2 separate regions of the Homo sapiens genome follow, and region 2 is linked to region 1. Evidence: fine-mapped expression QTL. Tissue or cell type: cerebellum. Region 1 holds a variant in brackets; the other region holds the start of a gene. All regions are shown on one strand. Distances are from middle to middle.

What was found. PIP is the estimated chance that this variant, and not a neighbour inherited with it, causes the effect.
Region 2: it holds the start of TTLL1-AS1, and the variant in region 1 is fine-mapped to the expression of TTLL1-AS1 in cerebellum (GTEx, PIP above 0.99). The same link has a PIP of 0.9 or more in cerebellar hemisphere.

What each region holds. Positions count from the first base shown.
Region 1 is chr22:43,072,713-43,080,814 of GRCh38, forward strand. It overlaps TTLL1 (TTL family tubulin polyglutamylase complex subunit L1), which reads right to left. Exons shown (of 11, transcript NM_012263.5): 2 at 7,190-7,274; 3 at 2,762-2,878. The coding sequence starts at 2,874. Among named protein-coding and RNA genes, the nearest start is that of TTLL1, 13 kb to the right of the region's middle. RefSeq lists enhancers at 5,813-6,335, 6,336-6,857. The variant T/C (reference allele first, on the strand shown) is at 4,716.
Region 2 is chr22:43,035,387-43,043,488 of GRCh38, forward strand. It overlaps TTLL1-AS1 (TTLL1 antisense RNA 1), which reads left to right and starts at 3,199. Exons shown (of 3, transcript NR_125362.1): 1 at 3,199-4,878; 2 at 5,825-5,915. It overlaps TTLL1 (TTL family tubulin polyglutamylase complex subunit L1), which reads right to left. Exons shown (of 11, transcript NM_012263.5): 11 at 4,130-4,519. The coding sequence ends at 4,390.

The sequences.
Region 1 (8,102 bases):
CTGTCTGCCTCCACCTCCCAAAAGGCTGGGATTACAGGCATGAGTCACTGCACCCAGGCACCCCACCACCCAGCTAATTTTTTTGAGACAGGGTCTCAGTATACTGCCCAGGCTGGTCTCAAACTCCTCGCAAGGTGCTGGGATTACAGGCATGAGCCACTGTGCCCAAGAGTTCTATGCCCTGGCCTGTGGCCATCTTTAATCTGCCACAAATTGGGTATGTGGCTTTTGGGGTATTTTTCTGTTTGCAGTTGTATGAACTTATAAATTCAAATACATATGATAAGTTTCAATTCATTGCAATTATTCTTTTTTTTTTTTTGAGACAGTCTTGCTGTGTCGCCCAGGCTGGAGTGCAGTGGTGCGATCTTAGCTAACTGCAACCTCCGCCTCCTGGGTTCAAGCAATTCTCCCTGCCTCAGCCTCTCAAGTAGCTGGGATTACAGGCGCCTGCCACTAAGCCCAGCTAATTTTTGTATTTTTAGTAGAGACAGGGTTTCACCATGTTGGCCATGGTTGGCCAGGCTGGTCTCAAACTCCTGACCTCAGGTGATCCACCTGCCTGGGCATCCCAAGGTGCTGAGATTATAGGTGTGAGCCACTGCGCCCGGTCTATTTATTTATTTATTTATTTATTTATTTATTTATTTATTTTATTTTTTGAGGTACAGTCTCACTCTGTCACCCAGGCTGGAGTGCAGTGGTGTGATTTCAGCTCACTGCAACCTCTGCCTCCCAGGTTGAGGCCATTTGCCTGCCTCAGCCTCCCGGGCAGCTAGGATTACAGGTGCGCACCACCACACCCAGATAATTTTTGTATTTTTGTAGTGATGGGGTTTCACCAAGTTGGCTAGGCTGGTCTCCAACTCCTGACCTCAGGTGATGCACCCGCCTTGGCCTCCCAAAGTGCTGGGATTACAGGCATGAGCCGCTGTGCCCAGCCCATCATAATTATTTTAACGGCTGCACCATAATCCACTCAAAGTACTTAACCCACCCCCCCATACTGTTTAACATTTAGTTGTTTCCAGTATTTTACCCCAACCAATTTTTCTGTAAACCTGATTGTACATTTAGTGCTTAGAACAGAAGCTCTTCTTTTTTATTTATTTATTTATTTATTTTTTTTGAGACAGAGTCTCACTGTCACCCAGGTTGGAGTGCAGTGGCGCGATCTCAGCTCACTGCAACCTCCACCTCCTGGGTTCAAGCGATTCTCCTGCTTCAATCTCCCGAGTTCCTGGGATTACAGGCAGGCACCACCACACCCAGCTAGTTTTTTTGTATTTTTAGTAGAGACAAGGTTTTGTCATGTTGGTCATGCTGGTCTCCAACTCCTGGCCTCAAGTGATCCACCGGCCTTGGCCTCCCACAGTGCTGGGATTACGGGCATGACGGCCAGAACAAGAGCTCTCAAAATATCAATTAGCTTGGCCAGGCACAGTGGCTCACGCCTGTAATCCTAGCACTTTGGGAGGCCAAGGCGGGCGGATCACCTGAGGTCGGGAGTTCGAGACCAGCCTGACCAACATGGAGAAACCCCCGTCTCTACTAAAAATACAAAATAAGCCAGGCGTGGTGGCACATGCTTGTAATCCCAGCTACTAGGGAGGCTAAGGCAGGAGAATCGCTTGAACCCAGGAGGTGGAGGTTGCAATGAGCCGAGATTGCCCCATGGCACTCCAGTCTGGGTGACAGGAGCGAAATTTCGTCTCAAAAAAAAAAAAAAAAAAAGAAAGAAAGAAAGAAAAAAAAATATATGTATCAATTAGCCAAGACTATTACACTGTTTAGCCTTTTTCTTCATTTCATTCCATTTTTTGCTGTTGTTGAGAATAGCTCCGAAGGCTGGGTACAGTGGCTCACGCCTGTAATCCCAACACTTTGGGAGGCTGAAGTGGGAAGATCACTTGAGTCCAGGAGTTTGAGACCAGCCTGGGCAACATGGGAAGACTCTGCCTCTGAAATAAATAAATAAATAAATAAACAGCAGCTTTATGACCAAAAAAGAAAAAAAGAATAACTCCAAACTGCTTCTTATTCATGGCCGGACATGGTGGCTCATGCCTGTAATCCCAGCACTTTGGGAGGCCGAGATGGGAAGGTCCCTTGAGGCCAGGAATTCAAGACCAGCCTAGGCAACATAGCAAGACCCTGTCTCTACAAAAAAAGAAAAAAATGTGGCCAGGCGCTTGGCTTAGACCTGTAATCCCAGCACTTTGGGAGGCCGAGGCGGGTGGATCACAAAGTTCAAGACCAGCCCGGCCAACATGGTGAAACCCCGTCTCTACTAAAAACACAAAAAAATTAGCCAGGTGTGGTGGCGCCTGTAATCCCAGGTACTTGGGAGCCTAAGGCAGGAGAATCGCTTGAACCCAGGAGGCAGAGATTGCAATGAGCTGAGATCGCACCATTGCACTCCAGCCTGGGTGACAGAGCAAGACTCTGTCCTGTCCTCTGGCCCAGCTATAACGCACGCTCACTGGAAGGGGAGGGCTGAGGCTCTTGTTTCTCACCCAAACTCCCCACAGGGTTGCTGTGCTGAAACACCCCGGACTTCATACCCCAGGGTGAACACAGTGATGTGGGAACACACCACAACACATACTCTCACAAAAAACCTTAAGGAAAAATGTGTGCGGGGAGATGGCACAATGACAGGAGACAGTGGCTCTGAGGCCACTCTCTGGGAGGCACTGGAATTAGTAAAACCGATACGTAAGCCTCAGAGAAACAACCCAGCCCTGCTGTGTATGCTTACCAGTAAAAATTCCAGTCCTCGTTTTCTGTCACTTGGACCCATCCTCTCTTTTCAAAGTTATTGATCAGCACTGACTTCTCGATATCAGTGACCCATTTTACTTTCCCTGCCATAATCCTGGAAGAGATCAAAATATTAGAGATATGAAACTTCAACAGCTCACTTCCCTTTAAACCCAAGGAATCCTCTAAACAGCATGCCCATCCCAAACTCGATCTTACCCCGGCAATGGTTCTCAACCAGGAGTGATTCCATCTCCCAGGGGACACCTGGCAATGTCTAGAGAGTCTGGTTGTCATGACCAGGGGATGCCTCTGGCATCGGGCATGTCCAGGCCAGGGATGCTGCTCGATGTCCGACTGCACAGATGACCCCTCACAACCAATTATCCAGCCCCAAATGTCAACTGTGCCAAGGCTGAGAAACCCTGGTCTGGTGGGAGATAGAGGCAGCCATCAAATCACCACCCGGGAATGTTCAACTGCAAGTGTGCCAGGAGCCACAAAGGAGGGGCACATGGGGCTCTGAGAGCCGCAGACAGGGCAGCTGGGGAGGGCCACCCTGAGAAGGGGACCCTCGGGCCGACTTCCGATGGGTGAGTGGGGATCAGCATGCCTGTCCCACATCCCTCCAGGCACTGCCTGTCTCCCTACTTCAAGTCACCCTCTGTAACTGCAGAGTGACCGTAAGTGTTTATCTGGACTGGGCGTGGTGGCTCATGCCTGTAATCCCAGCACTTTGGGAGGCCGAGGCAGGCGGATCGCCTGAGGTTGGGAGTTCAAGACCAGCGTGGCCAATGTGGTGAAACCCCATCTCTACTAAAAATACAAAAATTAGCCGGGTGTGGTTGTGCGCACCCGTAATCCCAACTACTCGGGAGGTTGAGGCAGGAGAATCGCTTGAACCCGGGAGGCAGAGGTTGTAGTGAGCTGAGATCGCACTACTGCCCTCCAGCCTCGGCGACAGAGCGAGACTCCATCGCAAAAAATAAAAATAGGCCGGGCGCGGTGGCTCACGCCTGTAATCCCAACACTTTGGGCGGCCAAGGTGGGCAGATCATGAGGTCAGGAGATTGAGACCATCCTGGCTAACACGGTGAAACCCTGTCTCTACTAAAAATACAAAAAATTAGCCAGGCATGGTGGCATGCGCCTGTAATCCCAGCTACTCGGGAGGCTGAGGTAGGAGAATCACTTGAACCTGGGAGGTGGAGGTTGCAGTGGGCAGAGATTGCGCCACTGCACCCCAGCTTGGGCGATAGAGCGAGACTCCATCTCAAAATAATAATAATAATAATAAATCAAATAAAATAAAAATAAAATAATTTTTTAACAAGTGTTTATCTGGGCCAGGCATGGTGGCTCACGCCTGTAATCCCAGCACTTTGGGAGGCCGAGGCAGGTGGATCACGAGGTCAGGAGATCGAGACCATCCTGGCTAACACAGTAAAACCCCGTCTCTACTAAAAATACAAAAAATTAGCCGGGTGCGGTGGCAGGCGCCTGTAGTCCCAGCTACTTGGGAGGCTGAGGCAGGAGAATGGTGTGAACCCGGGAGGCGGAGATTGCAGTGAGCGGAGATCGCACCACTGCACTCCAGCCTGGGTGACAGAGTGAGACTCCACCTCAAAAAAAAAAAATTGTTTATCTGACGACATCACTCCCATTTAATAACCTCCATGACTCCCCAGGGCACTTAAACACACAGACCCCTGGCCCTCACCTGCTTCCCCAGGTACACCTCACACCACCTTCTCCTTTACCCTCTGTTCTGCCACGCTGGGCTTCTCTGCCCACTCTCTCTCCTGCCACAGGCCTCGCACACACTGGGCCCCTCCGCCTGCAGCATGCTGCCCTCGATCTCTGCCTGGCTAAGCCGCCTCCCACTCATCTGCCAGCATAAATGAATGTCGCTTGCTCCACAAAGCCTCCCTGACCCTCCAAACAAGGTGCTG[T/C]ACCCCTCGGCAACCCTGGAGCTCTGTATCAAGCATCTGCTGTCCCTGCTGGGGGCCAGGGAGCTGGCTTGCTTTCTTCTTCACTGCCATGTGCCCAGGGCCCAGCTCCATGCCTGGCACGTGAGGGATGCTCAGTTCAGATGGAGAAACTGGCTGCTGTCCCAGGCCTGTCAGCGCCACTGTGGGACTCGGAGCTATCATAGTTACAGGAGGACTCTGGACCTCGGTCTGCTCTGAAAAGTCTCGTTTTCAAACTGCTCAGGCAGCCCAAGATTCAAGGCTCCCACCCCGGCTCCAACCAGGAAGGCTACAGGAGGCTGCCTCCCCACCCTGGCAACCCCCACACCACAGGCATCTGGCCTGTACAATTCACACGTTGTACTTAAGACAATCTTCTGGCCGGGCGCGGTGGCTCACGCCTATAATCCCAGCACTTTGAGAGGCCGAGGCAGGCGGATCACTTGAGCCCAAGAGTTTGAGACCAGCCTGGGCAACATGGCAAAACCCCATCTCTACAAAAAAATACAAAAATTAGCTGGGCGTGGTGGCATGCACCAATAGTCCCAGCTACTTGGGAAGCTGAGGCAGGAGGATCACTTGAATCTGGGAGGTCAAGCTGCTGTGAGCCAGGATGACGCCACTGCACTCCAACCTGGGGGACAGAGTGAGACCCTGTCTTAAAAAAAAAAGCACTCAAGAGACATTCACTATTATCATCATCATCCCCACTGCACCAATGAGGAAGCTGAGGCTCAACAGTTAAGAGCCTGTGTAAGAACCAGACTCAGCTGGGTGCAGTGGCTCATGTCTACAATCCCAGCACTTTGGGAGGCTGAGGTGGGCGGATCACCTGAGGTCAGGAGTTCAAGACCACCCTGGCCAACATGGGGAAACCCCGTCTCTACTAAAAATACAAAAATTAGCTGGGCGTGGTGGCATGTGCCTGTAATCCCAGCTACTCAGGAGGCTGAGGCAGGAGAATTGCTTGAACCCGAGAGGCGGAGGTCACAGTGAGCCAAGATCGCACCATTGCACTCTAGCCTGGGCGACACAGCAAGACTCTGTCAGAAAAGAAAAGGAAGGAAAAACAAAAGAGAAGAGAAGAGAAGAAAAGGAAACAGACTCAAGGGAGTCCGGGTGCCCTGATTCAAAGCCGGGATGATACTACTCTAAAGTGCCGCCTCTCTCCACACAGCCCATCACTTCCCTCTGTGAACCTGGCCTTTGGCAGGATGATGACAACACCCAGGTCACAGGGTCAATGAGCAATAAACAGAACCGCTCTCTGCAAGCTACAAGGTGCTGTATAAAGGACTGCTGTTAGGTGATCCGATATGGTGCACGTGGAACCTCAGCAGTCACACCAAGATGACAATAAAAGCACAGGAGCCGCACCCCAGAGCGTGAGCCCATCCCACACCCCTCACACCCACAGACACGGGGACCACGGGAGCCGCACCCCAGAGCGTGAGCCCATCCCACACCCCTCACACCCACAGACACGGGGACCACGGGAGCCGCACCCCAGAGCGTGAGCCCATCCCACACCCCTCACACCCACAGACACGGGGACCACGGGAGCCGCACCCCAGAGCGTGAGTCCATCCCACACCCCTCACACCCGCAGACAAGGGGACCACGGGAGCCACACCCCAGAGCGTGAGTCCATCCCACACCCCTCACACCCGCAGACACGGGGACCATGGGAGCCGCACCCCAGAGCGTGAGCCCATCCTACACCCCTCACACCCACAGACACGGGGACCACGGGAGCCGCACCCCAGAGCGTGAGCCCATCCCACACCCCTCACACCCACAGACATGGGGGCCAAGGGAGCCGCACCCCAGAGCGTGAGCCCATCCCACACCCCTCACATCTGCAGACACGGGGGCCACAGGAGCCACACCCCAGGTGTGAGCCCATCCCACACCCCTCACACCCGAAGACATGGGGACCACGGGAGCTGCATCCCAGAGCGTGAGCCGATTCCACACCCCTCACACCCGCAGACACGGGGCCACGCCAATGGCTCAGGGAACTTTTCATTTTCACTATGTGATTTCAGCCTCCACAGCTGTGATTTCCTGATGAATCCTGCTTGCGGCCTGGGGACCACCCCCCAACCACCGCCGTCCAGGCTGCATGGTTCACATGTTGTACTTAAAGCAAGCATCTTAGTGGGTGACCTCACACCAGCCACTGACATCTACCTGGAGGTGACAGAAGAGTAGTGACTGGAGACCAGGAAGGCTGTGCGCGATTCTCACACAGTGCTTCCCCAGGCCTCAACGCTTTCAGGTGTGAGACCCCAAACCTACCGAGGCAGACGGGCCAAACATCCTCATCCACATTTCACTAAGCAACTGGGGCAGGTGCTTTAGCCAGACCATCAGGTGTCCCTCCCAGGCCCCGCGCCCTCTCTCCCACCGTGTGGGCAAATGGTCCCTAAGGGGCCGTCTCAGGCTGTACCTACCATAGGCACTGACAGAGCACCACTGGCAACGCCCACGCTCACCTCGGTCTCGCTGACGTCACTGACGCCGGCCCCTCCTTCTTCCCTAAAAGTTAACACACAGATGAAATGTACATCAAACACATTAAGAAGACACTCTTTAACCATTTTTTGTTTGTTTTTGTTTTTTTGAGACAGGTTCTCACTCTGCTCAACCAGGCTGAAGTGCAGTGGTATGATCTCGGCTCACTGCAATCTCTGCCTCCCGGGTTCAAGTGATTCTCCTGCCTGAGCCTCCTAAGTAGCTGCAACTACAGGCGAGTGCCACCACACCCGGTTAATTTTTGTATTTTTTGTAGAGACAGGGTTTCCCCATGTTGGCCAGGCTGGTCTCAAACTCCCAGGCTCTAGCTATCTGCCCACCTCAGCCTCCCAAAGTGCTGGATTTATAGGCGTGAGCCACCGCGCCTGGCCTCTTTAACCATTTTAAGAATACTATGACAAAACCGTAACTAGCCAGAATATTCAGTGGCTGGCATCTTGTTGAACAAATGTACACCAAAAGATGCTCTTAAGAGTCTTCCCATTACAGTAAGAATTTCTGAACTGTATTACTTACTGGCTCCAGCTGGCCTTCTCAAGCTGCCATACCACCCCTCATGTCACACACCCCTCACTCCAGCTGAGCTCAGCCCCTTCCCACACCTGCCCGACCCTTTCCTCCCACCTGCAAGCCTGTGTGCACCCTGTGCCCCACCTGGAACGGCCCCTCTGCACTGCCTCTTCTCCAACTCCTACCAATCATTCAAGGTACAGTTCAAAGGTCACTCCCTCCACAGAGAGCCATTCTCAGCCTTAGCTGGATGGAGCTAAGGTGCCCTCCCCAGACCCTCTGTCTCCTCTCCTGCCATCCTTGCTGGCACTCAGAACTGCC
Region 2 (8,102 bases), 37 kb before region 1:
GCCGTTACCAGCAGGCAGGGCCCTGCAGGAGACCTTGGCCTCCCCAGACCACAGGGGCTGCAGGGCTGCTGCGGGGAGAGGGCCAGGCGGCCGCAGCACAGCTGGGAATGGCTCCAGAGGGGAGGGTGGAGAGTGCGCTGGCCCCTGGGGGCACTCAGAGAGGAGCTGCGTGTGTTTGGCACTGGTGGACATGGTGTGTGGCAGTGTGAGCCAACAGGCCAATGGGTGGCAAGCATAGGAGGCTTTATGGAGCACCCTGAAGAACCACTGTGTGGAGGGGAAATGGCCCCCTGTGAGGAAAGTCCTAGCAGCTGGTGGAGCGCAACCAGATGCGGGTCCAGACTGATGGGGTCTCCATGGCAGCCCAGGTGGGAGGCGGAGGAGGAGAAGGGAGACAGTGAGAAGGTTGTCACCAGGCCCTCACTAATACCCGGGGAGCAGCCCGTGTGCAAAGGAGGTGAAGGATGGTGGTTTTCTTTTGTTTGAGATGGAGTCTTGCTCAGTTGTCCAGGCTGGAGTGCAATGGTGCGATCTCGGCTCACTGCAACCTCCGCCTCCTGGGTTCAAGTGATTCTTCCGCCTCAGCCTCCCAAGTAGGTGGGATTACAGGCATGAACCACCAAGCCCAGCTAATGTTTGTATTTTTAGTAGAGACGGGGTTTCACCTTGTTGGCCAGGCTGGTCTCAAACTCCTGACCTCAGGTGATCCACCCACCTCAGCCTCCCAAAGTGCTGGGACTACAGGCGTGAGCTACTGTGCCCAGTCGAGGATGGGTTTATATTGGGAAAACCAAGCCTATCAAACTTGGTGAAAACGACCACAGGATGCAACCCTCTGGCCTGGGACCCACCCCATCAAGTGTGTGGGGGCTGACAAGAAAACAGCAACGGCTCCCGGACAGCTCCCAGCAGGGCTCACTGCTTAGCCCCAGCCTAGCGCTGAATGGGGCTGTTCCTGGCCCGACAGCCTCCCGAGGCCTGCTGCCAACACCGCACCCTTCCCACCCGTGTCCTGGAAGTGCTCAGAGGAAACATCTGCCCAGAACATGACATCACTAAATCATTAATGAGACAGTCACTATATGACATAAATCCACTTAGCAGAGCCTCACTCTCACCTAGCAACTGGGTCACCAGCAAACTAACCACTTGGTGTGACTCTTCCATTAGGACTGCGTGGCCCCGGAGCCTCAGAGGCCAACGTTCCCAACCAGGGACTCCACCCTTCTCCCAGAGGGAGGCAAAAACAACACAATGTAACTGAGAACCGGGTTGTAAAAACCGGTGGAAGAGCTGGGAACAGTTAACGGGGTGTCTTTCACTTCTGCGTGTAGGAGCCGAGGTGGAGCCGCCAGCTGTGCAGAGGACACCCCCTCCTGGGAGGTAAGAGGGCTCGCCAGAGCCAGCAAGGCGTGCGGGCAGGGTCCCTGTGCGGTGGTACTGGTTGTTTCTGAGGCAAACAGAACTCCCCCCCTTTTTTTTTTTGAGACGGAGTTTCGCTCTTATTGCCCAGGCTTGAGTGTAATGGCGCCATCTCGGCTCTCCGCAACCTCCGCCTCCTGGGTTCAAGCGATTCTCCTGCCTCAGCCTCCAGGCTAATTTTTGTATTTTTAGTAGAGATGAGGTTTCACCATGTTGGCCAAGCTGGTCTCGAACTCCTGACCTCAGATGATCCACCCTCCTCGGCCTCCCAAAGTGCTGGGATTACAGGCATGAGCCACTGCGCCCGGCCACAGAACTCCCCATTTTATACAGTGGGAAACAAAGGTGCAACGACCCCAGGGACAGGCTTGGGAAACAGCTAATAAACAGCAGAGCCAGGCCACAAGGCCAAGTCTGACTCGGGGATCTCCATCCCACACCCGCCATCAACAGCAAACACATTAAAACTAAACCCCACGGCTGGGCGCAGTGGCTCACACCTGTATTCCCAGCACTCTGGAAGGCTGAGGCAGGCGGATCACCTAAGGCTGGGAGTTTGAGACCAGCCTAGCCAACATGGTGAAGCCCCATCTCTACTAAAAATACAAAAATTAGCCGGGCATGGTGGTGTACACCTGTAATCCCAGCTACTTGGGAAGCTGAGGCACGAGAATCACTTCAACCCGGGAGGCAGAGATTGCAGTGAGCTGAGGTTGCGCCACTGCACTCCAGCCTGCTGGGCGACAGAGCGAGACTCTGTCTCAAAAACAAAACAAAACAAAACAAAACTTAAACACCAGGGAACACACACAACACACATACCAATAAGATCACGAAGAAGGAATGGCTGAAAAGCCCACCAATTGTAGTTTATTTGGAGTCCAGCCAAGTACCATTTGTGTTGAAAAGACCTATTTTTCCCTAATTGGCAGTGAAACATCATTAAATATATGTACTCATATACACACACACAATATGGCATGTACACTTGACACACGTCCATGCATGGGCACTGAGAGAGCCTGGGCAAGTCAGTTAAGACCCTTATCTGAAGGACATACCCTTGGTGCCATTTGGGAGAACAAACTCCTGTTACTAGCATTGCAACAAAAACAGGTGGCAAGCTTTAAAGATAAACTCAAGACAGCGAGTGAAACTTCAGCAAATACGTGTTAATACGACCATGAGTAAAAGGCCCTTCCTGGCCGGGCGCAGTGGCTCACGCCTGTAATTTCAGCACTTTGGGAGGCGGAGGCGGGAGGATCACCTGAGGTCAGGAGTTCGAGACCAGCCTGGCCAACATGGTGAAACCCCGTCTCCACTAAAAATACAAAAATTAGTTGGGCGTGGTGGCAGGCGCCTGTAAGCCCACCTCTTTGGGAGGCTGAGCCATGAGAATCGCCTGAACCCAGGAGGTGGAGGTTGCAGTGAGCCTAGATTGTGCCATTGCACTCCAGCCTGGGTGTCAAGAGTGAAACTCCACCTCAAAAAAAAAAAAAAAAAAAAAGACCCTTCCTAAGAACAGCACTGTAACTCATGAGTTATTACTCAAATGCATCTGTCCATCTACCCACCAACTCAGGTCCTCTCCATACACTCCTGTAAGTCACCGGGCTACCGGGAGACTGCATGGGAACAACCACGCTCGCGCAGCCTGTCCCGCAGCCATCGCTCCTCCCACAGCTCCTGGCTGCCCACGGCGCTTCCCTGTAGCAAACCCAGCTGCTGACGTCATAAAAGGCACACAGCCGGACCTGTCTGTGCTCATCTAGTTCCATTTACAACAGACTCATCCACAAAACCGAAGTGGTAGAAACAGGTCTTTTTGAAGCCAGGCGTGGTGGCTCATGCCTGTAATCCCAACACTTTGGGAAGCTTAGGCAGGAGTATCGCTTGAGCCCAGGAGTTCGAGAACAGCCTGGCCAACATGGTGAAACTCTGTCTCTACAAAAAAAACTTTAAAAAGTAGCTGGGGGTGGTGGTGTGTGCCTGTGTGGTCCCAGTTACTCGGGAGGCTGAGGTGAGCGGATCACTTGAGCCCAGGAAGTTGAGCCACAATGGCACCACGGCACTCCAGCCTGGGTGACAGGGCGAGATCCTGTCTGAAAAGAAAAAAAAAAAGAAAAGAGAAGAAAAGAAAAGAAAACAGGTCTTCCTGGGAGCACCTAGACAAAGGCCTTTGTAAAGATAAATTACCGAGGAATATTTCTAGTTGCCTGTTTTCTTCAAAATCACAGTCAAGTAAGCTGGGCGTGGTGGCTCACCTCTGTAATCCCAGCATTTTGGGAGGCCGAGGTGGGCAGATCACCTGAGGTCAGGAGTTTGAGACCAGCCTGCCCAACATGGTCAAAACCCCATCTCTACTAAAAATACAAAAATTAGCCAGGTGTGGTGGCACACGCCTGTAATCCCAGCTACTTGGGAGCCTGAGGTGGGAGAAATACTACCCAGGAGGCAGAGGTTGCAGTGAGCCAAGATTGTGCCAGTGCACTCCAGCCTGGGCGACAGAGCAAAACTCTGTCTCGGGAAAAAAAAAAAAAATCGCAGTCAAGTAAAAAGAAACGCAACTAAAAGAGCCGTCAGTTAAATACATTCCTCTCTCGTGGCAGGACGAGTCTATAAGATTTGTTTTGTTTTTAATTTAGTGTAAAGTTTTTTTAATGTTTAAACCTTGTGACACATCAAATTACATGCTTGAAGCTGTTACTTTCTGTCAAAAAAGTGAGTTTTTAATATGAAAATTCTGCTTAGGTTAAAAATTAAAAAAAAAAGAGCGAGTTTTATACATCCGCATGAATTGTTTCCTTTAGCACTAGTCAAACAGACTCCATAACCTTCCAAAGAAGTGCCTTCGTTTATTTACAGGGCTTAGGAAAGGAAAAAAGCTCTACAAAAGGGAAATTTCAAAATAGGGCTTCAGCAGGGGCCCAGGTGGAGTGAGTAGTTTTGATAAGGTCCAGGTGGGACTCACTTCCAGGTGGTGAGGACCGCTCTCCCCGAGTCTCTCGATCGGCCTGCTCTGGGCCCCAGAGACTGACCCTGACGGCTTCTCAGCTCCCGGTCAGCCCCGTCACCCTGGGCCAATTCTTCATCATACCTGGAGACAGAAACAGCCAGGATCACGGCAGGCTCTCTTTCAAAGGCAACAGGCAGGGCCACCAGGCTGCTGTGTGGCAAATATGACATCACCCAGAGAAGCGGCCTGAGGGGGCCCCACCCTCGCGACTCCTGCTGGCTCCCGCCCACCTCCCACCTGGCTCCAGCCCACCTGCCTGCCAGGTGGCTCTCGCAGCCCAGCAAATGCTCCCCAAGGCCAGCCTGCCTATGTGTACAACCTTGTTGTTATTGTGGACAGTGGTCTCCCCTCGGAAGCTGACATTTTATACAGGTCACCAGGTCAAATATGGCAATGACTCCAAAGGCAACATGCATGAGGTGACACAGAACCAGCCCAGGGTAAGTGAGGTGAGACTGCCTGGCTGGAAACGCTTCACACAAGGCACCTGCAGGCTGGGGGGACTAACTCCATTCCAGATGGGAGTGGTACATGAGCACTGGTCAGTGGAGGCCAGGGCAGAGAGGCCCCACGGTGCACACTCAGCTAGAGACTCTGCCAGTGTGACCCACGCCACCCCTCCCCATTTTCTTTTTTTTTGAGATGGAGTTTCACTCTATCACCAAGGCTGGTATACAGTGGCGCAATCTTGGCTCACTACAACCTCCACCTCCCTGGTTCAAGCGATTCTCCTGCCTCAGCCTTTCAGGTAGCTGGGATCATAGGTGCCCACCACCACACCCAGCAAATTTTTGTATTTTTAGTAGAGACAGGGTTTCCCCATGTTGGCCAGGCTGGTCTCGAACTCCTGACCTCAGGTGATCTGCCCATTCGGCCTCCCAAAGTGCTGGGATGACAGGCGTGGGCCACCGTGCCTGGCCCCCATTTTCTTTAACTGCCTGTTTCCCAATTAACGTTCATGCATCCTAAGGCCGCGTGTGCTAAGGAGGCAGCAGTGTAGGAAACAGCCTGAATTTTCGTGTCTGGAAGAGCTGGATGCCAGCTGCAGCTCCCCAGACGGGGTGGTCACAGCATCTGGGCAAGTCCTGGGTCCTTCCCACAGTGGCGGGGCCCTTCTCTCACGGGGTCCTGGAGCATGGTCGTTGCTGCCTGCACCTATTGCAGGCTGTGGCAGGGAGCAGGCTGGGGGAATGGGGCCGCCCCCCTCCACGGTGACTGACATTATCCTCCCAACTCGGGCGGCAGCACCAGGACTTGCTTCCTATGGGGGGAAACTGGGGTTCTAGAGGTTTGCTCAGGGCCTAGGGTCCCACAGCTGGCCTGTGGCACAGGTAAGATTAACCTCTAGGACTTCTGATTTCTAATTCGGAGTTTTTTGTCCCATAGCGCTGAGGAGTGTGGAAAGCATCTTTCCCCAGTTAAAGCACATCCGTCGGTGTGCTGCGCTGGCCATCCTGACTAGGACCCTCGGTTGTATGTAGGTATTTGTGTCAAACACAAAAGGTACCCAGATGCTGAGTGCTAATCATGTGGACTTCTGGAAAAGGGTGGATTTCTGTGATAAGCTTATTACCAAAACCAGAGTTTGCAGGTTGAATGTAGTATGAGTTAGAAACTTCTGAGGTTAAAGAATGTATTTTCTGCATTGTGCTTCTGGTGGCAAACTGGGACTGAAAGAGTAGGTGGGAAGAAAGCATTTTCTGATTCCTTTTTTTTTTTTTAAACGGTCACCCAGACTGGAGTGTAGTGGCCCGATCTTGGCTCACTGCAACCTCTGCCTCCTGGGTTCAAGAGATTCTCATGCCTCAGCCTCCCAAGTAGCTGGCATTACAGGCGCATGCCACCACGCCCGGCTAACTTTTTGTATTTTTGGTAGAGATGGGGTTTCACCATGTTGCCCAGACTGGCCTCGAACCCCTGAGCTCAAGCAATCTTCCTGCCTCGGTCTCCCAAAGTGCTGGGATTACAGGTGTGAGCCACTGCGCCTGGCCGCATTTTCTGACTTCTGTCTGTGAAGCAGACACCACAGGGATCCAGGCTCTGCACCAGGGTGGAGCTGTCAGGATGATGATACAGGGGCCTGCTTCCTCTCTGGCTCTCGAAGGAGAGACACAGCCATAGTCCCTATGACACAAGGAAGCCGGACAGGACACCCCTGGAACTCTGGAATCTGCCTGGGTGGGGGGGGTCCTCCAGGAAGCCTCCCTGGCGCCTCTCCACAGGATCAGATACCCCTACCCCGTGGGGACTCCACATTCATAAATGTCGTCACTCCACTGCCCCCGTGTTTGCTTCCCTGGCCAGGGGGCTGCAGTGACCGCCCGTCTGGTTCGTGGCTGCCCCCAGCAGCTTGCTCAAGGTCTGGTGGATAGGAATCTACTGAATGAATGGAGAAAAGGACCACATATGGTGACCGGTTTCACGGAGCACTTGTGCTGATCTGTGTGGCTCAAAAAACAAAACAAACAGAAAGGAGCATTTGGCAAGCAGCTGGCACCGGGATGCGCTGTTCCCAGGGGTGGTCTGGCCACCTACCGAGCCAACGCAGAGGAGAATCAGAGCCAAGATGGCTCTTCGAAGTTCCTGTTCTAGCAGGCTTTTCTTCTGGCTTTTCACAGAAACAATCTAGTCACTGTTAGGGTTTTTTAAAGGCTGTAAAAGTACAGTCAGCAACTTCGGAACAGGGTCCTGGAGGTGGCAGATGCAAAGTGCCAGGCCTTGTAGGGCCACAGCCAATGGTATGGCCTGGGGCACGTGACCTCATGCGGCCAGTGTCCTCTGCTAGATGCTGCTGGGCTCTGAGGAGTTGCTGTGGGCACGCAGAGCACCTGGCATGGACGGGCGGCGCCGCTCAGATGACGTGGCCCTCCCAGTCAGCACCAACTGCTACTGCTGCTGGTGGCTGCACCTGAAAATGGAGCTGGGGTTCTTTGATCAGCTGAATGCCTAAGGGAAGCAAGCCCTGACTAGAAGCGTTTAGAGGCCATCAGCTCCACACAAGAGCCTTCCATTACTCCTCAGGAGCCAGGAGAGGACGGCTGGATCAGGGAGGGGGGTTCACCTTGTTGTCTCTTCAACTAAAAGCAGTGAGGCTCTGGCCTCTGCTGCTTTTTCTTTTTTTTTTTTTTTTTTTGAGGCAGACTTTCGCTGTGTCGCCCAGGCTGGAGTGCGGTGGCACGATCTCGGCTCACTGCAACCTCCGCCTCCTGGGTTCAAGCCATTCTCCTGCCCTCAGCCTCCCAAGTAGCTGGGATTACAGGTGCCCACCACCACGCCCGGCTAATTTTTGTATTTTTAGCAGAGACGGGATTTCACCATGTTGGCCAGGCTGGTCTTGAACTCATGACCTCAGGTGAGCCACCTGCCTTGGCCTCCCAAAGTGCTGGGATTACAGGTATGAGCCACCATACCCAGCCTGGCCTCTGCTTCTTGGCCGGGAAATGGCGAGTCTGGCCCACTCCCTCAAGAAGTCCACAGGCTGGACGCGGCAGAGGCTCTACACGCTCCCAACAAGCCAGCCTCTCCACCACCCTCAACTGGACTGAAGAGAACCCCCCAAGGTCCTCATGCTACTGACAAGTCTCCCCGCAATGGTCCCCACCCTGTACACACTCACAGACCCCCTCAGTCCTCCAGCACAGGGGCCATCAGGACCCAGCCCCGA